4 linked regions of the Homo sapiens genome follow. The protein of the gene in region 2 interacts with the protein of the main gene of each other region in a biochemical or structural test. Each region holds a gene or a part of one and is shown on either strand. Other genes may lie near its edges. The genes, in order: NPM1, CDKN2A, CCND2 and TRIP12.

Evidence for each region.
Region 1: the proteins of CDKN2A (region 2) and NPM1 form a complex in vitro, tested with the Homo sapiens proteins (3 studies listed by BioGRID).
Region 3: the proteins of CDKN2A (region 2) and CCND2 form a complex in vitro, tested with the Homo sapiens proteins (2 studies listed by BioGRID).
Region 4: the proteins of CDKN2A (region 2) and TRIP12 form a complex in vitro, tested with the Homo sapiens proteins (2 studies listed by BioGRID).

What each region holds. Positions count from the first base shown.
Region 1 is NC_000005.10:171,404,832-171,411,417, forward strand, and holds the end of NPM1 (nucleophosmin), read left to right. Parts: intron 1-470; coding exon 471-572; intron 573-1,565; coding exon of another isoform or gene 1,566-1,574; exon of another isoform or gene 1,575-2,294; intron 2,295-2,868; coding exon 2,869-2,943; intron 2,944-5,695; coding exon 5,696-5,734; 3' UTR 5,735-6,069; downstream 6,070-6,586. UniProt on the Homo sapiens protein: Involved in diverse cellular processes such as ribosome biogenesis, centrosome duplication, protein chaperoning, histone assembly, cell proliferation, and regulation of tumor suppressors p53/TP53 and ARF.
Region 2 is NC_000009.12:21,967,252-21,971,891, forward strand, and holds the end of CDKN2A (cyclin-dependent kinase inhibitor 2A), read right to left. Parts: intron 4,414-4,640; exon of another isoform or gene 4,078-4,413; intron 3,958-4,077; coding exon 3,651-3,957; intron 3,253-3,650; coding exon of another isoform or gene 3,155-3,252; exon of another isoform or gene 2,554-3,154; intron 2,543-2,553; coding exon of another isoform or gene 2,481-2,542; exon of another isoform or gene 2,330-2,480; intron 1,521-2,329; coding exon of another isoform or gene 1,474-1,520; exon of another isoform or gene 1,324-1,473; intron 992-1,323; coding exon 978-991; 3' UTR 501-977; downstream 1-500. UniProt on the Homo sapiens protein: Acts as a negative regulator of the proliferation of normal cells by interacting strongly with CDK4 and CDK6. This inhibits their ability to interact with cyclins D and to phosphorylate the retinoblastoma protein.
Region 3 is NC_000012.12:4,297,756-4,304,789, reverse strand, and holds part of CCND2 (G1/S-specific cyclin-D2), read right to left. Parts: intron 4,931-7,034; coding exon 4,781-4,930; 3' UTR 1-4,780. UniProt on the Homo sapiens protein: Regulatory component of the cyclin D2-CDK4 (DC) complex that phosphorylates and inhibits members of the retinoblastoma (RB) protein family including RB1 and regulates the cell-cycle during G(1)/S transition.
Region 4 is NC_000002.12:229,792,976-229,800,009, forward strand, and holds part of TRIP12 (E3 ubiquitin-protein ligase TRIP12), read right to left. Parts: intron 6,409-7,034; coding exon 6,308-6,408; intron 6,075-6,307; coding exon 5,900-6,074; intron 4,857-5,899; coding exon 4,715-4,856; intron 3,808-4,714; coding exon 3,616-3,807; intron 2,356-3,615; coding exon 2,204-2,355; intron 171-2,203; coding exon 1-170. UniProt on the Homo sapiens protein: E3 ubiquitin-protein ligase involved in ubiquitin fusion degradation (UFD) pathway and regulation of DNA repair.

The sequences.
Region 1 (6,586 bases), on a different chromosome or scaffold from region 2:
CCAGCCTGGGCACCATTGAGCACTGAGTGAACGAGACTCTGTCTGCCCTGATTTCCTTTTTTGAACTGACTTAGTACTGTGCATAAAAGCAAACTCCCAAGTTACTCTTTTTTTTTTTATTTAAAGAGATGGGTGGCCTACTCTTGCCCAGGTTGAAGTACAGTGGTATGATCATAGCTCACTACAGCCTCCAGCTGCTGGGCTTAAGCAATCCTCCTGCCTTAGCCTCCTGAGTAGCTGGGATTACAGGCATGCACCACCATGCCTAGCTAATCATCTTATTCCTTCCTTAAAGGAAAGATTTTAAGAACAAAATTATATGGCGTGAATTTATTGATGATAATTCCAGTTGTATAATTAGCTTTATAAGGGAGTTTTGTGAGAATATTTGAGGAAATCCAGATAGAATGGGTTTTAATTAGGAATTGTATTTATTCTTATGACCTTTTGGAAATTCATTTCTTTTTCAGGGACAAGAATCCTTCAAGAAACAGGAAAAAACTCCTAAAACACCAAAAGGACCTAGTTCTGTAGAAGACATTAAAGCAAAAATGCAAGCAAGTATAGAAAAAGTGAGTAAAGTTATCTTAAAAAAACTTTGTCTCCCCCCTCAAATTGCACGTGTCTGGTTTGCATAGACTTGAATGTTTCTTGTTTTTTTGTTTGTTTTGGTTTAATATACTTGCCTGGTTCGTGGTATGAATTTTTTCAAAAATTTCTTATAAAACATTTATAATCGTGTCTGTGGTGATTTTTGCATATGCAAAATTAAATATGCCTTATTTTCCATTATGCAAGGAACGTAGTGCACTGGTTGCAAGATAACATTCTGACCTTCCATGTTAAAATAGATCAGTGAAAACCCTTTGCCTATTCTGGTTGTAAGATATGCTAGAGAACCAACAGAGGGCGTATGAGACTTCATTAAAATTACAAACAGCTGGAAAAGTAGATGCTGGCTGTTGCTTGGTATTATAGTTAATATTCATGATTGACCCTAGTCAGAAGTGATTTTCAGCAGATTGAGACATTTCTCTTTGCCCTTTACACCAAGTTGTCACCAGTTAATACATGTAGTAATAGCTAGATTTCGTGAATGACTAATAGGCTTAAATCTAGTTTCCTTTTGTCTTAAATAATGGAAATGTGGGAAGAGGGTTAGGTCTCTCATCTGCTTGACTGGGGGATTTGAGTAGGATATGGAATAAATGGTTTAAATGCCTTGGAAGCACATTTGAGAGAAGCTTTAATTCTATGAATAATACTTTTAGACTCCAACTATTGAGAGCAAATGTGGGGTGGTGAAAAATTGCCAACTCATTTCCCCATGTTTTTCTTGTAATCTATAGATTTTTCGTGGCTTCAGTAGATTCCTTGTACAGTGATAAGTCCACTGGAAAAAGAATTTTAGAACTGGAACATATTTCTTTTAGTCACACTGTAAACCCTTTAGCCTTCCTGGTTATCACTGATTTTTGTCCCTTGGATACAATGCTAAAATGACATCTTTTAGATGCCCCTCCCCTCCATTTTAATATGGTCCTATCTCCTTGGTTTAATTGCAGGCGCATTGAACAGTCCTGGGCACTACATGTAAATTAAGCCCAAAGATGGGGAGAAAGGAAAAGGAGAGACAAATATAGTCCATACTGAGTGTCATCAACAATCCAGACTGAAGTCTTCTATTTTAATCTCAATCCCCTTTTCTGATTTGCCACCCATGCCTCTTCAGGCTGGAAACAATCTCTTGGTTCCCTAAAGCACTTTCTTCTGACTGCTGTGATTCAGTGAACCTTGCCCTTTGCTTTCTATTACTTGTGCATTTGCCTCACCTGACAATGTTTTAAATCGCCTTTGTATCTCCTTAGCTGCTCAATAAATATTTGAATGCATCAATTAAGAATGTATGTGACAATAATTTTGAAATGGAAATTGTGAGGTTTATTTTACTAGGTTATTGGAGGCAGTTAAGTTTCTTAATGCTATACCTGATTCTGCCAAAGTCCCTTGGACATTTGAAAACCTTTTCAATCTTTTAAAAATGCATAAAAGATACTTAGAGGGAAAGGTATTAATTAAATTTAGTAAAAACAAATATATTCAATGCTTTAAATTCCAAAGTAGTGATAAATACAAACATTTCAAGATATTTGCAATAGTAATGTTTTGAAATTTTGGTTACAAAGTCACAGGTCTTGCCAATACTGTTGTAGTTTCTTGCCTATATCCGTAATTTGAAGGAAATGGTGAGAGTGATTAGAGAAGTGTAATTACTGTAATTTTTTCCCCTATTGTAGTTTCTTGCCTGTATCCATAATTTGAAGGAAATGGTAAGAGTGATTAGTGAAATGTAATTACTGTAATTTTTTCCCCATTCAACTTTATATATCTTTAACTGATGACCAGATCATTGTTGTTCTGAACCAGTTTGTGGTCAGCAAGTGTTTTGTGGGGTTTTGTTTGTTTGTTTTTAAAGAACAGTTTGGGTCACTTGACATGGTTCTCCAAAGGGATGTTATGGGTTGTATTTGGTTCTGGGTGATAACCGACTTGTTAGATAATTTAGATAAGCAACCGAGTTGCCATGTTTGTTTGTCGAATCTCAAGTGTAGCTTATATTTTATGTTCCTAGAGAGGTTGTCAGGGAAGATTTGACCCTTTGGCAAATCTGTTTGAATAGAGATACTAGCCATGCTGCCCAATAGGGCTTTCTGGCCCTGAAAAAGATACGGAGTATTCTTGGAAAGTTGAAGGGAAAAAGAATAAACTGATCCATGTAGTAGCATGCAGATTATTGAGGAATTTTCTAAAGGTATCTCTCTCGGTGTATTTCTCTACTTACCTGTAATAATGCTTTTGTCTTAATAGGGTGGTTCTCTTCCCAAAGTGGAAGCCAAATTCATCAATTATGTGAAGAATTGCTTCCGGATGACTGACCAAGAGGTAACTGGATTTTCTGGGGACATGATTAAATCCAAGTTTTTTTGTGATTTATTATGATTCTGCCTTTACCCTTTTTAAGTGTTGGCTCTTTTTAAAAAGTTCCTAACCACAGATAATATTTCATTTAATGAAATACCTGAAAACTCATGTATTTAATGAAATGCATGAAGAATACAGTTGGCAGTCTGAGATGATAACTTTAGTATATTTTTCCCAGATTTCCTATAGTTGGTAAATTATTTCTTGGTTATTGAATTCAGTTTTACTTTTTTGGTACTATGTTGGTTAAGGAAATTGCTGTGGTTTTCCTTGCTGTTCCATTTGACTGCTTGGGGCAGTCTGGTCTTGGCTTTTTTGGGAGTTGGTAGAGATCTTTTTTTTTTTTTTCCTAGATCTTATGGGAAATACATTATGCCAAAATCATCCTAACATGAAATCTGGAAGCAAGACACTAAATTGTGGCTACTACCAGATACATAAGCTTGAGTTAGCTGTTAGATTTTACAGTTAGTACATGTGAAAGTCTTAGTCAACATAAAGATTATGCATTTATTTTTGCTCTTATTTACAGTTGACTCATAAGTGTAAGGACAATGTAAAAGTGGTTAAATAGGGATGTTAGGTATCGTGTGGAGAACGGATGCTGCATTTAATGGTCTTTAGGTTTCCTGTGGTCAGCTTTTTTCAAAAAATTAGGAAAATTTGGCAATTAGCTGGTTTTTTTTCTGCCATAGTATTTTGCACTTCAATTATTTAATTGCACTTCAATTTTTAGTTTTCGGGTTCGTAAAACCCTGATAATGGTTAATTTTGAGTTTAGCTTTGTGAAAGTTGTAGTGATGGGCTATAAGATGATCAGGTTCAGTCTTTGGTTGCTGTTCTGTTTTTTCTCTACATTTGAATCCTAAAGTTTAAAGTGTGAGTTTTGGGAGTTTATTTGGAATACTAAACATTGATTAATCATAAATTATTTTGAAACTCCGCGTTATGCAACTGTTTATTTAATATTGAAAATAGTGGAAAGTCAGACATAAATAACCAGCATGTACTAACAGCTAAGCAGCATAAGAGATGCATTCTTCAACTACTGCCAAGGAAAGTGATGATAAATTTAATGATTAAGTTGCAGTAGTCTTCTGTACTTTATAACAAAGGCTTGTAGCTACAAAGTCTTGTAGCTATTAAATTACTGAACCAGCACTTCTACAAGAAGTATTTTCTTTTTATAAAAAGTATTTTTGGCCAGGTTGGTCTTGAACTCCTGGCCTCAAGCAGTCCTCCCATCTTTTCCTCCCAAAGTGCTAGGATTACAGGCACGAGCCACCTTGCCCAGCCTACCAGAAGTATTTTTTTGCTCTAGAATTGAAAGTGTTCTCAAGTGTCAGAATGAAATTTCTGGAATAAATAGTAAATGTTTAATAACTTGAACTTGAATTGCTGTTACAGAGATTATCAAAACTAAATGCTTCCTGTTTTTGACATAGAGATGCATGATGCAAGCAACGACAATGTATATTTGTTTGAACCTGATGATAAGATCTCTGGCTGGGCGTGGTAGTTCATGCCTATAATCCCAGCACTTTGGGAGGCAACATGGCAAAACTCTGTCTCTACTAAAAATACTAAATTTAGCTGGGCATGGTGGCATGTACCTGTAATCCCACCTACTCAAGAGGCGGAGGCAGGAGGATCGCTTGAACCTGGGAGGCAGAGGTTGCAGTGAGCGCCACTGCACTCCAGTCTGGGTGGCAGAGTGAGAGTCTATCTCAGAAAGAAAGATTTCTATGATATTTAATATTGGCATTCGGTATTCAGTTACCTTGTACCTGAGAACCCATTGGCTGTGAAACAGTGACAGCTGAGAGAATCCTGAGTCATCTCATTTCTAGTTCTTGGTGAACTTCTGGACTTTTCTTCAGAACCACCTTGCCATGTTGGCCAGGCTGGTCTTGAACTCCTGACCTCTCAGGTGATCCAACACCTTGGCCTCTTAAAGTGCTGGGATTACAGGCATGAGCCACCATGCCTGGCCAGCTGTTTTTTTTGTTGGTTTGTTTTTTGTTTTGGTACCCATCTGTAGTGTGATCTTGGCTCACTGCAACCTCTGCCTCTTGGGCTCAGGCAGTCCTCCCACCTCAGCCTCCTGAGTAGCTGGGCCTCCTGTAGTTGCACACCACCAAGCCTGGCTAATTTTTGCATTTTTAGTAGACAGGGTTTCACCATGTTGCCCAGGCTGGTCTCAAATTCCTGAGCTGAAGTGATCTGCCCGCCTCAGTCTCCCAAAGTGTAGGGATTACAGGCGTGAGCCACCATGCCTAGCCTCAGCATATAGTTTTTTCTAAATGTACACATGCCCAGGCACACATGCACAGGCAATTCAGAATAAGTTTCTGGTGTTTATGTAACTTTATTTGCCAAATCTGGCCAACTCTAAAGCTGATCTCGGGAGATGAAGTTGGAAGTAACATTGGCCATATGGGTCTCTGTTCTTTCTGTTGATTTCCTTAAGTAAATAATGCTAAACTATTAAATAATTATTAGTATATTGTTCACATTTTTATGACTGATTAAAGTGTTTGGAATTAAATTACATCTGAGTATAAATTTTCTTGGAGTCATATCTTTATCTAGAGTTAACTCTCTGGTGGTAGAATGAAAAATAGATGTTGAACTATGCAAAGAGACATTTAATTTATTGATGTCTATGAAGTGTTGTGGTTCCTTAACCACATTTCTTTTTTTTTTTTTCCAGGCTATTCAAGATCTCTGGCAGTGGAGGAAGTCTCTTTAAGAAAATAGTTTAAACAATTTGTTAAAAAATTTTCCGTCTTATTTCATTTCTGTAACAGTTGATATCTGGCTGTCCTTTTTATAATGCAGAGTGAGAACTTTCCCTACCGTGTTTGATAAATGTTGTCCAGGTTCTATTGCCAAGAATGTGTTGTCCAAAATGCCTGTTTAGTTTTTAAAGATGGAACTCCACCCTTTGCTTGGTTTTAAGTATGTATGGAATGTTATGATAGGACATAGTAGTAGCGGTGGTCAGACATGGAAATGGTGGGGAGACAAAAATATACATGTGAAATAAAACTCAGTATTTTAATAAAGTAGCACGGTTTCTATTGACTTATTTAACTGCTTTATACTTTGTCAAAGAAATAATTAATGTAGTTAGGAATGGCAAATAGTCTTGTAAAATTCTATGAGAATGTCCCTGCCCTCCCCTTCAATATTCTCTCTGGAGCTAACCACTTTTTCATCATAAGGATTTAGTGCTGTGTTCCCACCTCCTGATGATAGTTAACAATTATTATAACTATGCAACATGTTTCCAAATGTTCCATTAGACCTCCTATCTGCCTATTCTAGCCTCACTTGCAAAGAAAATGTGGCATGTTAAAACAGCTTAAAAGCAGCCTTTCAACCTGTATGGTTTTTTCCCCTAGGCTGGAGTGCAGTGGCACAATCTCAGCTTATTGCAGCTTCTGCTTCTTGGGTTCAAGCAGGTCTCCTGCCTCAGCCTCCCAAGTAGCTGGGATTACAGGTGTGAGCCACCAGCCCGGCTAATTTTTGTATTTTTAGTAGAGATGGGGTTTCACCTTGTTGGCCAGGCTGGTCTCGAACTCCTGAGCTCAAGTGATCT
Region 2 (4,640 bases):
GTGCCTGCAACAATCCCACTGTGGCAGAGAACCGCAGAGTTCCTTCCGGTTTGGCAGCAGTCATTCGCAACCTCACAGCCCTCTGGAACCCCAGCCTGGGGGTCTCAGAACGCCGAGGCGGGGACTGGGAGCCGAGTCGGATTCCGAGACTATGGGCCAGGGTTGGCTGGATTCAGTTACCTGGCTGAGGCCTGGTGAGCAAAATATCCCAAACCTCGCGTGATCTGGAAGGGGAAGCCGGATAAATACGGATCTCCAGATGTGCCAGTCTCGAGTCTATCGATATGAGGTCCCCCTAGAGTTTCTATTCATCATTTTAACCGCATTTCATCGATCTTGAGACACGGCTTTTGATATTTTATCACCTCAAGATAAATAGTGTTAGATGTCTAATAGCAGCGTTTTTCTAAGAGATACATGAAACAACAGTGTCAGAAACGATGCTGTCTTCCATGCGATGAAATTGTTGTAATAGGTGCTCAATAAATGTTGACAATAAATGAGTGAATGAATGAAAATTATTTTATTTTTATTTGAGCTTTGGTTCTGCCATTTGCTAGCAGTGTGACTCAAGAGAAGCCAGTAACCCCCCTGAGCTTCCCTAGTTCACAAAATGCTTGTCATGAAGTCGACAGCTTCCGGAGGCTGCGAGGCTCGCAAGAAATGCCCACATGAATGTGCGCTTAGGGCGTGAGTGCTCACTCCAGAAAACTCCAACACAGTGAAAAGGCAGAAGCGGTGTTTTTCTTTTTTACATTTTTATAAGAATATATAAAAAATGATATAAATGGACATTTACGGTAGTGGGGGAAGGCATATATCTACGTTAAAAGGCAGGACATTTTTAAAAGCTCTATTTTCTAAATGAAAACTACGAAAGCGGGGTGGGTTGTGGCGGGGGCAGTTGTGGCCCTGTAGGACCTTCGGTGACTGATGATCTAAGTTTCCCGAGGTTTCTCAGAGCCTCTCTGGTTCTTTCAATCGGGGATGTCTGCAGAGGGCAGAAAGAAAACAGGCGTTAGAAACCTGAGGTCAAAGATGTGTGGCACATCCCGCCCTCCTCTCTTGCCGTCCCTACCGGCATTGAAATACTTATGGATAAAGTTCTCGCAATGGCTTCACGTGCATGTACCCGCCGCCACCGCTCTCCCACACCTCCCTGGTCCAGCAGCTAGTCCACTGCCCGCCTGGCTGCTCCAGGCGCGCCGACCGCTCAAGCGCTCCAGGTCCACCCGGCGGAGGGCAGAGAAAGCGCGACCGCGCGGCCCGCAGGGTTGCAAGAAGAAAACGAGTGTTATATAATGAGTCTCAGTGGTTGCTCACAATGCCAGGCGCGAAGGCGTGAAGATGTGGCCTTTCCCTTCCCGCATCCCCAGGCATCTTTTGCACCTGGTGCGGAGTGAGCCAGCCAGCTTGCGATAACCAAAGGGCGCCTCAGGCTCTGGCGCTCCTCGGCGGAATCCCGTAGCTTCCCTACGCATGCCTGCTTCTACAAACCCACAAATGGTTTCCGATCATTTCTGAAACAAAATGGATGCTCATTTATTCATGTGCTCTGGCTTCTGCCTTCCTCTCTAATCTCGTTGCGTATGGGCTCCAGCTCGCCGTTCGGTTCTCCCGAGGCAGCATTTACACTTGAGAGTCTCAAGATTATTTTATTCCTGAGGGAGCATTTGCACTTGAAAGTCTCTTTTTACGTTTATTCCTGAGGCAGCATTTGCACTTGAGTTTCTTTCTCCCGTAGCTTGCATTAGATTCTCCGACCACTCTTTAGCTTCTCCTCCTATTCACACTTCATATTTACCCATTGCATTGGTTTTATAAACTCGCTCTCTGAAAATAGATTGTTATCTTCCTTAACGTCTGTTTCCCAGGTCGGGCAAGATAGCTTGGGACTGTAATCCCAGTACTTTAGGAGGAGGAGGGGGGATGATCGCTTGAGCCCAGATAACATGGTGAGACCTTCGTCTCTATTAAACAAACAAACAAACCCAGGCGTCGTGGCGTGCACCTGTGGTCCCAGCTAGTCGGGAGGCTCAGGTGGGAGAACCCCTTGAGCCAGGGAGTTTGAGGCTGCAGTGAGCTGTGATCGCGCCACTGCACTCCAGGTTGGGCAACAGATCGACTCTGTCTCCAAATGTAAACCCCATGAGGGCAAGACTCTTGTTTGGTCTCATTCACCTTGGCGTGCCCACCACCTAGAACAGGGCTGATCACGCAGTAGAATCTAACCATATAATTAATTGTGCTTGAAGAGGGGGTGTTGGGGAGTAAGAGAAGGAAGGGAGGAGGGAAGAAATGAAAGACTTGTGTGTTTGGATTAAATATATTAGGTTTGGTTAAGAGTCGTTCAGTTTATTCATTTGCTTGTGGCCCAATTCAGTAGTTTTACTCCCTCTCCCACTTGGCTCCTCAGGCTTTTTGCTCAGCCCTGGAACCGCGCTGTAATTGGCAGCTCCTTCTAAATCGGGACCCGGATGCTAGCTGTAACTGGAGCCGAAGTCTCCTTCTTCACCTCCCGGGACCTGGATGCTAGCTGTAACTGGAGGGAATTGGCGGGGGGGAGGGGAGGAGGGGCCGAGTAAAGAAGAACTTCGCGTCTTTAACTTCGAAGGTGATTTTGCGTTCTGTATTTACAGCATCTCCAAGCAGAGGGCTTAGAGCTAACTCTTCACCCTGTCCTCCCCAGCTCCCCTATGGCCCAAGGAGCCCAATGCCCCCGTTCTGGGCCAAAATAAGATGGATTTCATAATCTTCAAGGTCATGTTTTACCTTAAATATTCGTGTTAATTCCCGTGTACTGTTTCATATATCTATTTTGTTTCAAAAAAAAATGTTCCTCCCCCCAGAAACAATTGAGTAATGTTGGCAGTTTCAGCAGACAGCTGTGGGAGTAGGGAACTGGGGCCATGGAATGGGGGCGGAGGGAGGATGCTTTGAGATCACAAAAAGGAAAGGCAAGGGCAAGGAGGACCATAATTCTACCTTCATCGCTCAGCGATCTCTTGCACAAGTTTAAGAGGGAAAGGAGCCAACTCCGGTGCACAGACTGCCAGGGTCAGCGAAGTCTTGGTCCTGATGTCCCCAGAACCCCCTGGGGCAGCTCTGGAAAACTCTACCGCATAAAGCGGAGGGTCAGATTAGCTGAGGAGGGTCAGATTAGTTGAGTTGTGCAGAAGAGCCGAGATCGAGAGATCTCCAGATGATGCCACGCACAATTGGGTTTGGAAATCCTGAGGTTGGTCCAGCCAGCTTGGTATGCAAATGAGGAAACAGACCTGGTAAGTGGATGCAACTGGCCCTAGTTTGGAGGAAGAGGGGGCACTAGACCTCTAGCCTCTTGAGTCTTCATTGCTCCGCAGTCTAGGCCTTGAACTAGCAGAGGGTAGGTGTTTGGGTGGTGGTATGCTTTGGGAAGTATAATGTACAAAATGGGCTTTCACGTGCGCAAGTCCATTTCGGGATTATTTCCCATTTGCCGCCCTGGCGGGGCAGGGCGATAGGGAGACTCAGGCCGTCCCACCGATTGGCGCGTGAGCTGAGGCAAGACCGGAGACTGGTCTCCCGGGCTGAACTTTCTGTGCTGGAAAATGAATGCTCTGAGCTTTGGAAGCTCTCAGGGTACAAATTCTCAGATCATCAGTCCTCACCTGAGGGACCTTCCGCGGCATCTATGCGGGCATGGTTACTGCCTCTGGTGCCCCCCGCAGCCGCGCGCAGGTACCGTGCGACATCGCGATGGCCCAGCTCCTCAGCCAGGTCCACGGGCAGACGGCCCCAGGCATCGCGCACGTCCAGCCGCGCCCCGGCCCGGTGCAGCACCACCAGCGTGTCCAGGAAGCCCTCCCGGGCAGCGTCGTGCACGGGTCGGGTGAGAGTGGCGGGGTCGGCGCAGTTGGGCTCCGCGCCGTGGAGCAGCAGCAGCTCCGCCACTCGGGCGCTGCCCATCATCATGACCTGCCAGAGAGAACAGAATGGTCAGAGCCAGGGTGGGGGCCGGCATGACGGAAAGGAAGCTTGTGTAGAGCCCCCTCACCGCCAAGCAGACCCCCACACAAGCCCCAGGTGTCTAATTACCCCTACATTTGCTTCCAGTTTCCAATTTCCTTCTTGAGTTCTCTATCCATTCTTCAGTACACAATGAATTCCATTATATCCTCCGAACTTCTGCGGAGCTGTCGTCACAGGCAGAGAGCACTGTGAGGCACGGGCAAAATAGCAAAGGGGCAGGGACAGACTGACTTTTACTCCAGGCTAACTTCCTGTATTTCCCCTGAGATACAACTACTGAAATTTCTTCCTGAAATTATGTTAGGCCTGGAGATTTTTTTTTTTTTTTTTGTTCACTGCTGTATATCCAAGCGCAGAATGTGGTAATTGTTAAAAAGAGAAAACTTGTTTGTTTGTTAAAACAAATTCTCACAAAACTTTTAAGTTACACTTAGCTTCTGGGAATGTTGAACTTCAATTTCTTTTTCATTATATTAGTTTTAAAATTATATATTGGGATAGTACAGTTGTATATATTTATGTGGTACAATATGAAGTTATGATCTTTGAACACAATGGGGAATTATTAAGTCAAGCTAAGTAACCTATCCATCATCTCAAATATTTGACATTTTTGTCAAATGAGAGCA
Region 3 (7,034 bases), on a different chromosome or scaffold from region 2:
AGGCACCTGTCAAAAGACATTGGATACTGTAATGGCTACAGTCAGTAAGGCACTTTATTTCCCCAAAGTAGGCTGCAGGCGAAGGGATGCAGGCTGCAGCTACAGCATGCACGTACACATTTGCTGATGGCTTCTCAAAACCTGAGCCGAGAATAGGGTCTGATAGCCCAGCCAAGTTTAAAAGCAGACACACACGAATGTAGTATCGTTGTGCCTGAAATGACCATTCTGGGTTGTTTAGAATCCAGAATCATCAAAAGCCATGTGGTATGAGGAAGTAATAAATATCCTCTTGAATCTTCTTACCCTATTTTGCACAAATGGATGGCTGCATGAACAGCTCTTGTAAATTGCTCTGAGTCCACACCAATAGAAACCTGCACTCATTCTATAGCTACAGAGGGTTTGTTGGCTTAAGGGGACTTTATCATCTCAGCATTAATTTCCCTTTTAAAGCTATTCTCAAGGTTGGACTGTCTCAGAGATAAACAAAGAGGAATCCTTTTGGCTTAGAAGCCAACTGGCTTACTCAGACTTCCTCCCCTTCCTACCTCCAATTCCCACACTACCAATATTATCTTCTTGAACTAGAAAATCAATTATTTACATGACATAAGGTGCAAGTCTATTTCTTCTCCCAGCCCTGTCCCCTGTGGCCCATGGAGAGAAAATTCCCCTGCCCTCTTGGAGAGAGTCATCTGATCCTGCCTTATGTTCTTAACCTTTCAGTCCCAGAGCTCCCAGGGCACAGTCTGGAGAGGCCCTAGAGGTGCTAGACTGCAGGGAAGCGCAGCTCCGTCTGAAGAGTTGCCAATCCTGCTAGCAATGGGATGCAGCGTGATGCTGTCAGGGTTGTCTTCTCCTCTGGCTTTGTCACTTAAGCCATGTGTGCCCCTGACCTGGCTGATAAGAGGCAGAACAGAGCCTCCAGTACAGAGCACATAGACCAAGGATGACCCAGTAGTAAGGCATGCTGTGCTCTCCAGTGGGGTCCTGAGGCAGTTCAAAATAAGGCCTCCTGGAAGAACAGCCCCTTCTTCAAGGAGCTCGCCTCTCAGCACGCATGGGGTGTTCTGCGGAGGGAACTGCCCTTGGCTTTCTCCTGCAGGCTTCTTGGCTGTTATGGACCCGCATGGAGTTTAATTATGCTTAGCATATATTTTTGGCATACTAGGATTTCTTCCCCCTAGGATTTGGCCAAAAGAGGGGAAGGATCAAAATTTGGCAGGCTGGGGGAACAACTCGGCCCCCACTGATGGAGAAAAAAACAAACAGATGGAAGTAAAGACGAGATAGAAACACAACAAGGTAGAAAAAGACCAGGATAATTTGGAACCCCTTTAGTGGGAGGTAAGAAAAAGAAGAGAAAGAACAACAACAACAAAAAGAGCAAGTTCAAATCCAAGGGGGAGAGCTCCTCTGGAACAAAACTCCTACCAAAGAGACTAAGAGCTAAGGAGAGGGCAAAATCCAGGATTCCTTCTTGTGTTTAAGCAGGAGCAGGCAGAAAAGCCTAACAACCCCCGACTTTCCCATCGGCAGCCCCACACCCATCATCACACAAGGCCCCAAGGATGGGAAAGAGAAAAGCTAGAAGGACCCAGGGGCCTCGGGACTACAGGAAGAGTGGAAAGTTACAGACTGTAAATAGAGTCGGGTAGGCTTGTGCCCTTCCTTATTTGTCCGGTTCTTTCATTTGCTGCTTCTGTTTAAGCTCAAGGGTCAGTCACCATGAAATGAATTTGCACCTCGGTTTCTCTTTAGGCTCCAAGATTCCCAAGAACTCCAGGGTTCCCGCTTTCCCCATTCCGTGGGACTCCTTGGGGCCCAGGAGAGTGTGCTGAGCAAAGCTGGCTCTTGAGAAAACTCTGGCTAGCTTACTTGCTGGCTGCTCCACTTCCCTCTCCAAAACTTCAGAATTCACCACCCATTGTCCCACCAGAAATCCCCTAGAATTTTAGGGTCATGCTAACTCACAAAGTCCTGAACCCTTCTAAACACACTTCCCAAGAGACTGACTCATCTGGAATTTCACCTCTGTAGAGAAGCAGCCTCTTCACCTCCCTTCAACTATCATCCCATACTTATCTGACCTATTTTTCTTATCCTGCCAATTCAGTGTGATTGAAAACCCGACCGTTTAGTACCGCTCAGCAGAGGGCCTGGGCTTGCATAGTGCTTGCCTGCGCAGTTTGAGACAGAGGAGGGAGAAGGAAGCACCATAAACGCTGCTTGCTGCAGGTTCATCTACTCGCAGATTCAGACCTAGGAAACCTGCAGAGATGATCCTAAACACAAGGTGTCCATGCCAGGGGAGGGGAAAGACGGAGGGGAAAAACTTCAAGATGAAAGGGCCCTTTGCAGATGAAGCCCCGCTTTTGAAAAAGCTCCAAGATGAGGATCTCCAAACAGCCTGGTGGAATTCTTTTTAGTCTGTTTCCTGACACCTGGTACCTAAGTGCAAATTACGACATCTGAGCCTACCGCATAAATGTTTGTACTGAACGTCTGCCTTGAAGGGGAGGGAGGATCCCTTGGTTCAATGTATTTTTTCCATCATGATGAGGATACCAGGGTCTAACTGGGAGCCCGATGGCCTCCATGACCAAAAAGGTCCCTGGGAGTGAGACCGCCCTGCCTTCCACCTGAGAGGGAGTCAGCCCTGCTCACACTGCTTCTGTATTCCTCATGCGAATGGGCTCCCAAGCAGAAACTGTACGGTTGTGAGGTATTATGAAAACAAAAGCGTGAATCATTGCCTTTTGTAGTTATTGATTTTGTCCAGTAAACCTGAGGTAAAGAATACTCCGTCTTTGAAGAATGTGATCAGAGGAAAAAAAAAAAACCAAAAAACCAAAAAAGAAAAAAAAAAACAACCATGAATATGCTACCAGAAGAAAACAAACTACGGAAGGGCTTTTCCAGTACGAAGAACTCATATCTCAACCATCTACTTCAGGACTTGGAATTTAAGCAGTAAAATAATATATTATAAAAATGTTTATAAAATAGCAGCACACTCTGTGAAACATTACAGCTAGGTACTGTCAACGTGAATAAGGATGGATGACTTTAGCTTCTTAGCAGCGCAAAAAAAAAAAAAAACCAAACTGAACAAAACAAAATTAAAAAAATGAGAGACCCTTAGATTGTTTTCCGTCTTCAACCCTCATACTATGAAACAAGGCAGAATCTGTGTATAAAATAATTCTTCAAATAGCCCTGTTCTGATTTTTCTTTTTTACTTAAAAAGGCAAATATTTTAACAAATAGCTTCATTACCTGTCAATTACAATTGTGCAAAAAAAAAAAAAAAAGTTGTTGCTCCAACCTCTTTGCTAACTGAATGCCTCTAAGAAGTGGAGAGGAAGAAAAATTCAAGTACGCTGAATACAACTTTGCAATAAAATTAACAACAACAATAAAAAAAAAAAAACGGAAAAGGGAACAAAATGCCACACCCTGATGTTCAGCCATCTATCTTTGCACCAGCAATAACTTTTCTTTCCATGTCCAAAGGAGAAGTATAGAGATGGGAATTAAGATCCTTCTGTGCCATCAGAATGGTAACAGATTTTAGTTTACAGGCTTGTCTGAGGAATGTTGTGATGGGAATGTCAGCAGGAAGGGGTGTCTCTTGAGTCCTGGTAGGAACACCAGAACTGTGTACCAAAGAACGCCAGATACCAGAAGCGAAGAGTAACCCAGACTGGGGGCAGGAAGGGAGGGGGCAAAAGAGAAGAGGGGAGGAGTATTCAGCATGACTTGCATAAACCATCCCATCTATCGCTCGGGAACAATTTTTCAAAGTGCTTTTCGAATGGAATGGTTTATAACAATGCTAAACTGTGAACCAGACATGCCAATCAGCACCAAAAATTAGTTTTTTTCTAAGAAGAAATGCCAAGGCCACATTACCCTTTTAAATACAATAACAGAAAAGACTCCATTCTGGATCCCACCCTTGGTCTCCATCTGCCTCCGTTTCATGTGAGTTTTGGTTATGGCCCATAGCTACATTTCCCCATTAGATAGCAATATGGTGGTGTCTGCAATGAACTGCATTTGGAAGAAGAAGCAGGATGTCACAGAACATGAAACCCAGGAGCCAATCACCTGTGTCCAACTGGCAAAATAAAACATCTTTTTTTAGGTAGCAGCTACTGTAGACAGCAAGAGGACATTAATGTAGAGATCCAACTACACTCCTGACTTAGTAACAGGTGGCTGAGAGCAAAGGTGCTTCTCCATCCCAAATGGTTCAATCATGTTGAGAGATTGTTTTGTACTCCTTCCCCATCATGTCCCTCCTTATTTCAATTCCTTCTTGAGTTCATTGCTTTGCAATCTAATCATGCCATAAATGGCGTACACAGTTCCTTGAAATTATACTACAAGGGGGTGTATGTGCTAGCTCATAACATGAAAAAAAAAAGTCTCCTCTAATTTGTTCCCATATTGCAGGCATACATATTCTCTAACTACTCTGCAGGTTTTCCTGTAAGCATTTTACTATTACTTTTACATAATCAAACAATAACTGTTCGCATATACAAGGGATTCCCTTATGCTGTACTTCAAATAGGCACCAAATGCTTTTTATTATTCCGTTTTCGTAGGACCTTTTTCTCTCACTTCTAAAAGATCTTTAAATATGATCTAGGTGGGGGCAGAATTTTTTTTTTAAGTTTCACCCTAAAACACAAAGAACAAAAACAACCAGAAAGAAGAAGAGACCAGATTATGGACGCGTCTCTCTCTTTCGGCCCAACTGGCATCCTCACAGGTCGATATCCCGCACGTCTGTAGGGGTGCTGGCTTGGTCCAGTTCATCCTCCGACTTGGATCCGTCACGTTGGTCCTGACGGTACTGCTGCAGGCTATTGAGGAGCACCGCCTCAATCTGCTCCTGGCAAGCTTTGAGACAATCCTAGAACAATGGTCCAGACCAGAGTTGTTAGTAAGAGGAACAGGACATAGAGCATCCTACGGAGAAAACATGCGTAATTTAGCTTGCATAAGTCTGTGCTAGTTTCCAGTAGAAATAAATGTGAAGTAAAGGAGGGATGTTCTTAAAGTGCCAAGGAACCTCACTACTCCAGGTGGGGTCCATGGGCTGGCAGCATCAGCATCACCTGCGAGCTTGTTGGAACCGCAGAATCTCAGTCAACCCAGGCCGAGCTATTCAGAACCTGCCTTTTAGTGGAGCCCAGGTGATTGGCATTCTGAGAAGCACTGGCCTAAATGATGGTCACTTATGGATGCCTGGTAATCAAGGGGCCGACCAGATGCTTTCTGCCTGGGGAAGCTGGGAAGTGGCAGAGAAAAGGGGAAGGCTACTAGAAGTGCTATGACATTAGCAAACTCAGCCCGAGAACTAGATAAGAAGGAAGCCAATGAACCAACGTACTGACCCTCACATAAACTGTAAATACTTTTTCTCACTCTGTCCCCCAGGCTGGAGTGCACTGGCACAATCTCGGCTCACTGCAACCTCCACCTTCCGGGTTCAAGCGATTCTCCTGCCTCAGCCTCCCAAGTAGCTGGGACTACAGGCACCCGCCACCGCGCCTGGCTAATTTTTGTATTTTTAGTACAGACAGGGTTTCACCATATTGGCCAGGCTGGCCTCGAACTCCTGACCTTGTGATCCGCCCGCATCGGCCTCCCAAAGTGCTGGGATTACAGGCATGAGCCACCGCGCCTCACTGTAAATACTTAAAAAAAAAAATCCCCAACTTTTTCTGCTTCTTTACCATTTCCTTAACTCTCATAAAGATATAATGCAGAATGTCTACAACATTCTGGAACCTTGAGCCATCCAATTTGGGAATAAGCAAGAATATGCAGCCTTGCTTTAGTATCAGTCTATATTGTAGGGGTAATTGACAGTGTGTCTGCCCCAGGCAGGAGCTTCTCTTAGGCAGATGACATGCAATGCAATGACAAGTCATGGGTATCACTAGACAGGGACCGTTGCTGGTGCTAGTAAGAGGGTGCAAACCGTAGACTTGCTTCTAACGGGCATTTTCTAGCCTCTCTCCTCTGCAAAGGTGCCTTTGTGCACTCTCTTAAGAAGCACATACATAAGGCAAATATGTTAAATTGAACCTCCCTGTGTCTTTTCATAGTTTAATATAAACTTCCCTTTTGTTTCTTTTACTGTGCAATTCTCCCCACCCAGAGGTTTCTATTTTGCCAAGCCCAAAAGCATTCTCTTTATTTCCCAAAGATCTAAAACACAGCTGGCCAGGCATATTGGCTCATGCCTGTAATCCCAGCACTCTGGGAGGCTGAGGCGGGAAGCTGAAACCAGGAGTTCGATACCAGCCTGGACAACACAGCAAGCTCCCGATCTTTAAAAACAAACATATAAATAAACAAAATAAAGCTGGAACTAACCACTAAGGAACAAAATTTCCATACCCCTAAATTTTCCTTTCCTATCTCTCATCTATCCCACATTTCAAACTACAGCTTTCAATGAAAACTAAGATTAGGAACAACCACAGACTAAAGGCCAAAGGCAGAGACGAAATATCACCTGGAACAATGAAATGAGGAAGGGTGGTATCTGCTGCCCACCCACTATACTTGCAGGTGGCACCTAAGTTATTTAACTTTTCTGATCTCAGTTTCCCCACAAAATAATCAGAGTAAAGGGCAACTGAGATGATACTGATATATGTGCAGTGCTAAGTGGAGCTCAATAAATGATCGTGATTATGTATAACAATAAACTGGTCCTGGAACCTAAAGAATTCAGATTTCTTTGAAATGAGGTATAGATTCGCATTTAGTCAAGACTAATGAAGCGTGTGTCAAGATCCTGACAATCTTTAGTCAAGACTGTGTGTCTGGGAAGAGTGCTGAACATGACAGACGTGACGCAGCAGCAGGAGTCTCCGTGCCACCCTGAACGAGGCTGAAATGGAGTCGGGCGCTGGCCTCTGGGACTTGCTAACACCTCTCAGACGTTCCTGTGGCATCTCCTGGTTACATCCCTTACCCTTACCCTGTCCGACCTGTTGAGC
Region 4 (7,034 bases), on a different chromosome or scaffold from region 2:
TAACTACAAGGTATCTCTCGATGGCTTGTACCAAAGCCAGAGGGTCAATCTTGACAGGTCCACCCTTCCACTGCTTCACATTTGCACAGTCTGGATGCCTTTGTAACTGGCATTTTAATTGATGTGTGTTGAAAAATTTTAAAGCCTGTGATCCTCTGTTGAGAGAAAAGCTCAAGATAATTTGTGAAAAAAAAGTTAGTCTATTATTTTCACATTTAATATACATTAATTCAAATAAAGGCAAGTTAATACAAACTGCATTTTCATAAGACACACTAGTACTAAGCATTTACTTACCAGTTCTGTGAATGGTAAAGCCAATAATTCAAGTTATTTAGAAAAAATTTTTATACGTAAGAAATAAAAGACGGATGTGTATGCATGCATATGAAAACCTTAAGTCAATATTTGATCTCTGTCCCATCATAAATCCATGGGAGCAGAAATACTTCACCCATGAATATTTAATTATTTTTCTGGAACAAAAATTCCTGAACTATTTAAGCACACTCACTTCTGCAATATTTTGCCCATTCCTATTGAATTATATTTTTTAAAAAGAAAAAAAAAACTCTTTATTTCAAAGATTTCAGCTACAATATTACATTAAAAACTAACCTTTAAAATTTACCTTGCTATAATAGTTTTGAACGAAGCGGTTTAATAGCTACTGCAGTTGAAACCTGGTCATGATGTTTAATTGCTCATTTCAGAAAAGCTCTGGCAGGAGTCAGATACAAACTTAAACTGTGATTATCTGTATGATTCCACAAAGCAAGCTTGTCCAACCTGCGGCCCACAGGCCACATGCAGCCCAGATGGCTTTGTATATAGGCCAACATAAATTCGTAAACTTTCTTAAAATACAATGAGTGTTTTTTTTTTTTAAGCTCATCAACTAACATTAGTGTTGGTGTATTTTATGTGGCCCAAGACAATTCATCTTCCAATATAGCCCAGGGAAGCCAAAAGATTGGACCCTCCTGCACATAAAGCACACAAATAGGGATGTGGAGAATATTCCATTTTATGAATATATACATATGCAAACATATTTTATATAAATTTGGACACAAAAAGCTTCATGATTTTCTCAAGCACAGGTCAAAATGCCCCCTTATTTCATGAACTCCTCCAGGAAATCATAACGATCAAAACTGAATACCACACACTACATTAAATTTCAAAGCAGAAAAGAAACCCTAGTCCATGATGTGATTGCTTTATCACTCAAAAATGCATATGGTTTTTAATTCAAACAAAGTTTTTTAAATGTTTTTAAAACGTCAAAATGTGGATTTAAAAACCAAACTAGGCTGAGTGTGGTGGCTCAGAAATCCCAGCACTTTGGGAGGCCAAGGCAGGAGGATCACTTGGGCCCAAGAGTTTGAGACCAGCCTGGGCAACAAAGTGAGACCCCGTCTCTACAAAAAATAAAAAAATTAATGGAACATGGTGGCACATGCCTGTGGCCCCAGCTACGTGGCAGGCTGAGGCAGAAAGATCTCTTCAGCCAGGAGGTCAAGGCTGCAGTGAGCCATGTTCACACTAGTGTAATTTGGCTTGGGCAACAAAGTAAGACTCTGTCCCAAAATAAATAAATAAATAAATAAATAAATAAAAACCAAACAAATTTCCTATTTTCTAGGCCTCCGGTCAAAATATTCCATGAAACTTGTAACATTCCACAACATAGAACAATTCTTTCCTGTAGCACCTCAAGAGTCCTTAAAACTACATTAAAAATATATATATTTATTAAACTAGTAAAACTTCAAACATTTGACCCCATCAAAATACAAAGTTATAGCCACTAATATTACATATAAATCATATCGCTCAAAATGTAAACATTACTCACAGCCACAAAAAATTTTTTATCCCTACTGAAGTTAAACATAAAGTTCTTAAGGAAGTTTTGTATGCTGAAGTGTATCAATTTAAGGAAAACTAAGCCTATTACAAGTTACAAATACAATCACTGGATTATATATTTATAAAGCATCCTGTTTAAGGCATATGGTATAATTTTAAAGATAAGAAAGCATTTGATTCATTCTTTAGAGTGCTTAATTTCTTTCATCATTACAGCTGAATGTTTTCTGGGCCAATCAAGACTTTACCAGACCTCTTGCCATCTTACTTCAGTGAAATTAAGTACCAAATTCCAGTGGCAAGGGTATAGCCAGGCAATGGTCCTTACCTGCCTCCTGTCCCATTTCCACTAGGGAAATCATGTACTTTGACTGGAAATTGTTCCATCTGGCTGAGGCAGTTGTTCATCTTGTGAACTAATGCCAACAAAGGTGCATTACCCACTGGTTCCACTCTTCCAATGGGCTCTTCTCCAGGAAGCTAAAGTTATAAATAAACAAACAGGTTAAACAAAGCCTTTTCAAAACAAAAGTCTCCTCAAAGAGAAGATTTAATAAGCAGCTTTATAAAAGAGAATAATTTGTCTATTCATCTTTATCTTTTATGGCAGATTTGGTTTGAACGATGTTACCACGTCAATTATTTCAATAAAGACAACTGTTTTGTACAGCCCACAATCCTGTATTCACAATCTCTACATCCAAAGGCTCTGAAAACACAAGTCACTTGGTGGCAAAATCTGATCCAAACAGACATAAGGCTATTTACAGTCTTTATTTATCTGATTTTAGTAAGAATATTCATGTTATGCTATAAAAATATTTAATGCATATAATATACAGTGCTATTCAGAAACTGCTGGGAATTTTAATGTACTACACACTGTAGGACCTTTGAAACCGACCAAACTCCAGGGGTTTCAGAAAAGAGATTGCACATAATCTTAAGTATGCTGTAAAACTATACATAATACTGTCACGCTTCTAATGAATCTCCAATAAATACTAACTTTGCTTTAGGTTGACTCACAAGTTAAAATACAAGCAATGCTCAAATGCCTCTGAGGACTGCAAGCGCATGGTGAAATAGTGTTAATACATAGGAGAGCTATGCTAAGCCCTATTACACAGATAATAGGGAACGTTTCCAAGTGATGCCTTCTCTTTAAGCCACTGTAAAACAAGGAGAATGCTGTCAACAGCATCCAAGGATTACCCTCTTGCTCTGGCCCACTTAAGAGTGAAGGAAGGGGAGCCACTCTGTGGCTTTGTAATCCACATTATAAACGGTGACATAAATGGTCATTAAGCGCCCTTGATTGGAACTGTTACAACTGTATTTTATGTACAAAACAAGAAAATATAACTCCTCTATCTTATTATAGATGTCTGTTTCACTAAAAGGAACTAATACAAACTTCAATACATTTAAAAACAAATATTGCAAGTAAAATACATTCACAGGTGAGAGACTACTATTAATGGCTCATCCTGCAAGCAAAAAAGACTCAAGATACTTCAATCATAGAAATAGTGACATGGGCTTTGTTAAATCCCCATTTCATTGTTTTACTATTTACTTTGATATACAGAAGTTGAAGGATTCCAACTATGTGAAAACCTAGAAGTTTTCCCTCAATGTCTTGACCAAGACCTGCTGGAAATTATTACTGAGATGAAAATATATGCATTAGTGAGCACTGATTCTTAAAAGATACACAGGCATTATTAGATAACTTACTGGAGAAGAAAAAAATACATGAAGAAATCGCTTTAATCTGATCTCTCTGCTCACAGCATCCTTTTCACTTTTAGATGTCAAATAAAGCAACAGCTGCTTCACAAATCCACTATGTTGGATTTCAAATGATGAAACATCTGACTCTGAGACTATGCTACGGATTTCTACAAGGCACTCAGCTCCACCATCCACCTGAAAGAGTTAGGAAAAGTATTTCTATATTGATTTAAGCAGCACTTAAAAAATACACAACTCACATATCCTCAAAAGGAAATGAATATATTCTCAACGCCCTTAAAAAAGAGGGCAGGGGAGTGGTACAGTCTTAGTAAATCCTTGGAAATTATGATTTTAAACACACACACACACACACTAAATATTTCATGAGGAAAACCAGGAATCCATAATAACATAAGAAGAAAATCTTCATATTCAACCAATGTAGTTTTCTTTAAAAAAGAGTATTTTAAAAGATGAGAACAGAAAACTGAAGAATAAGGGGCTATAACACCAGAATGGAAAGATGAATCAAGAATACAAGGTGTGGCTTTAAATTAATACATTTAAGGTCTCAGCAAAATGAACAATTTCTTGGAAAACATACTACCAAAACTGCTCAAGGTACATCAAAAACATCAAAATAAATAAATAAATAAAAATAAAAATAAGAACAAAAACTGAGAACCAGATGAAACGTAAAACACTTATTAGTAAACCTCTAGCCTCTCCTGCCACTCTGAGACCCCATGTGAAGAGAGGGGCTAAGGAAGGCCTATCATCTATACCTATAGTTGAGGATGACTTAGAAAACAGATGTGCTTGTGAGGACATTTCTGAAGTTTCTTCATTTGTCAAGAATGATGAGATGTGAAGGAAAGAAAGTCAAAGATGAGGTTTCTAGTACATTTAATACAGACTGATGAATCCTGATAGTCAAGGGATAAGTAAAAGAAATGCCAGCACCAAGGGTGTATATAAGGTAAAAGTCGATGTAGGATAGCTAAATCCATAGGAAGCTAGAGAGTCATGAAGGAAAAGAGTAGCAGGAGATGCTGGGAAGAGACTGAAAAAGACCAGCAAAATGCACTGGACACAGCACCTGGAGGTTGAGTTGTTCGGTTGCAGCACAAAGTCTCTGAAGGACATTCAATGCAGGGTTGCTTCCATCCATATTCTCAGAACTGAAATAACGTTCTACAAATTTATGTGCCTGCTCCTTAATCCAACCTTTAATTTTTTCTCTACAAGAAACAAAAAGGAGATATTAAAGTCCCAGTGTATGTAGAAAGGATATAACTTCTGATCAAGGCAAATAGCTGCTACATTTAAAATTCATCCTGGTCTATGCTTACAGTTTAAAAACTCCAGATTCCATAACCAAATTAACTTTCACTTTGAAAATGGGCTACGATGTACCACCTGGAGAACTGTTTAAAAACTTAAAATACACTGCAGGTCATTACATGAATTGTAAACAAAGTGTAATAATTTTTTGGAACCCTGCAATATAACACTTTCCTAAGTGTTCCCTTTACTTCCTAAAGTACATACATATCTGCATTATCCTTAACTTGTGTTTCCTGGAGAGCTGAAGTAAAGATTTACAGACCAGAAACATGCGCCTATTAAGGATGTAATAAGCTATGGCAAATAAGACCCGGCTGCTTAAATTACAAATGCTGATGGCTTCAGAAATCCATTCACTTAATTATTTTTATACACTGAAATTAAGAAAAACAACCAACAAAACCAAAGAGAGCATGTTTATTTTCTCAATGACATTTGGTCTTTTAAAATTTCTTATCTGCAGAGGGAAGTAATCATGTTGGTATGCTACATGCAGAACCCAAAAATAAAACAAGTCCCAAGGACTTAAAAAAAAAAAAAAAGGCTCTCCCCTAAAATCCTGAAGTTCCATTGTAATGGGTAGAGAAATTTTATCATAAAAGATGTGAAGAATGTGGACAGAAAATGTCAGCTTTTCCTTGTCTGGAACAAAACTGAGGAAGAGGTTCCCCAAGGAATACAATGTGGTTTTGAACGTATAAGACTTTCAGCTAGGTATGCTGGAAGGAGTTTCAAAGCACATGACTGGAACTTAGGACAAAGCCAGATGCAGGGTTCATAAACTGAGAAACTACCTAATTCTTGAACTATGCTTTTAAGAACAAATTAAAGTGCTGTGTCTATGTATCGTCTCCACACAATAAACGTACTGGCTGAAATAATGTTTAAGTTTTTCTGATATGGGAATAGAAGAAACATAAAACTCCCCCCACTTCACCTATTATTGGAGATGGTATCCTTTGAGGCAGCCCTGGCAAGGCCACTACCTCCCGCAGTCCGTGCTGGCTCAATGTTGTTGCTGTTGGACTGTGTACTTAACCTTCCCCATGTTTTTGGATTCAAGCTTGCCAGGAAAGAAGATTTAGGTGACTGAGTAGTGGTGGGGCTTTTAGCTATGAAAAGAAAAAAGAACTACAGTTAAGTCATTTTAGTTTAAGTGATGAAAAACAACTGATTTTTAAGATTCACAGTCTTAACAGATTAATTAACTGAAAGAACTAAGAACACTTAGTCCTCAGGAAACTTAGGCATACTTCAAGAGCTACTGGCAGTTTTAATAAAGTACATTTCTGCACCTGCTACCACCCTCCCCTTTACCTCCCCATAGTTTCATCAAAGGGGTTACCTTGATTGTCTACTTTGTCATCATCTCTTGGAGGTGAGTACTTTGGCCTTCTTGGCCCTCGTTTTGGCAGTCGTTTTCTCTTTAGAACATCACTTAATCGACTGTCCATGGGAAAATATGAGATAAGTTTAGCAATTACCACTGTTTTATATCTTCACTCACTGAAAAAGCAAACTAAAATGGCAGAAACAGGGAGTAATAAAATACTGTCAGGCCGGGCGCGGTGGCTCACGCCTGTAATCCCAGCACTTTGGGAGGCCGAGGCGGGCAGATCACGAGGTCAGGAGATCAAGACCATCCTGGCTAACATGGTGAAACCCCATCTCTACTAAAAATACAAAAATTAGCCGGGCGTGGTGGCGGGCGCCTGTAGTCTCAGCTACTGAGGAGGCTGAGGCAGGAGAATGGCGTGAACCCGGGAGGCGGAGCTTGCAGTGAGCCGAGATAGCGCCACTGCACTCCAGCCTGGGAGATAGTGAGACTCCATCTCAAAAAAAAAAAAAATACTGTCATAACAAGGTATGTTCTTGTTTAGTGATTATTTAATGCCAATTCTGTGCCAGTCATGTTCTAGAGGTGTGCAGACACAGCAAATGATTATTCAGAAAATAACTAGCTGTTTAACTATACTGAACTATGAAACATAAAGCCAGATAAGATGACTGATCAATTTTCTATGTGTTCCACTTTAAATAGTAGTATATAAGTACATAAAGCAAATATGCAA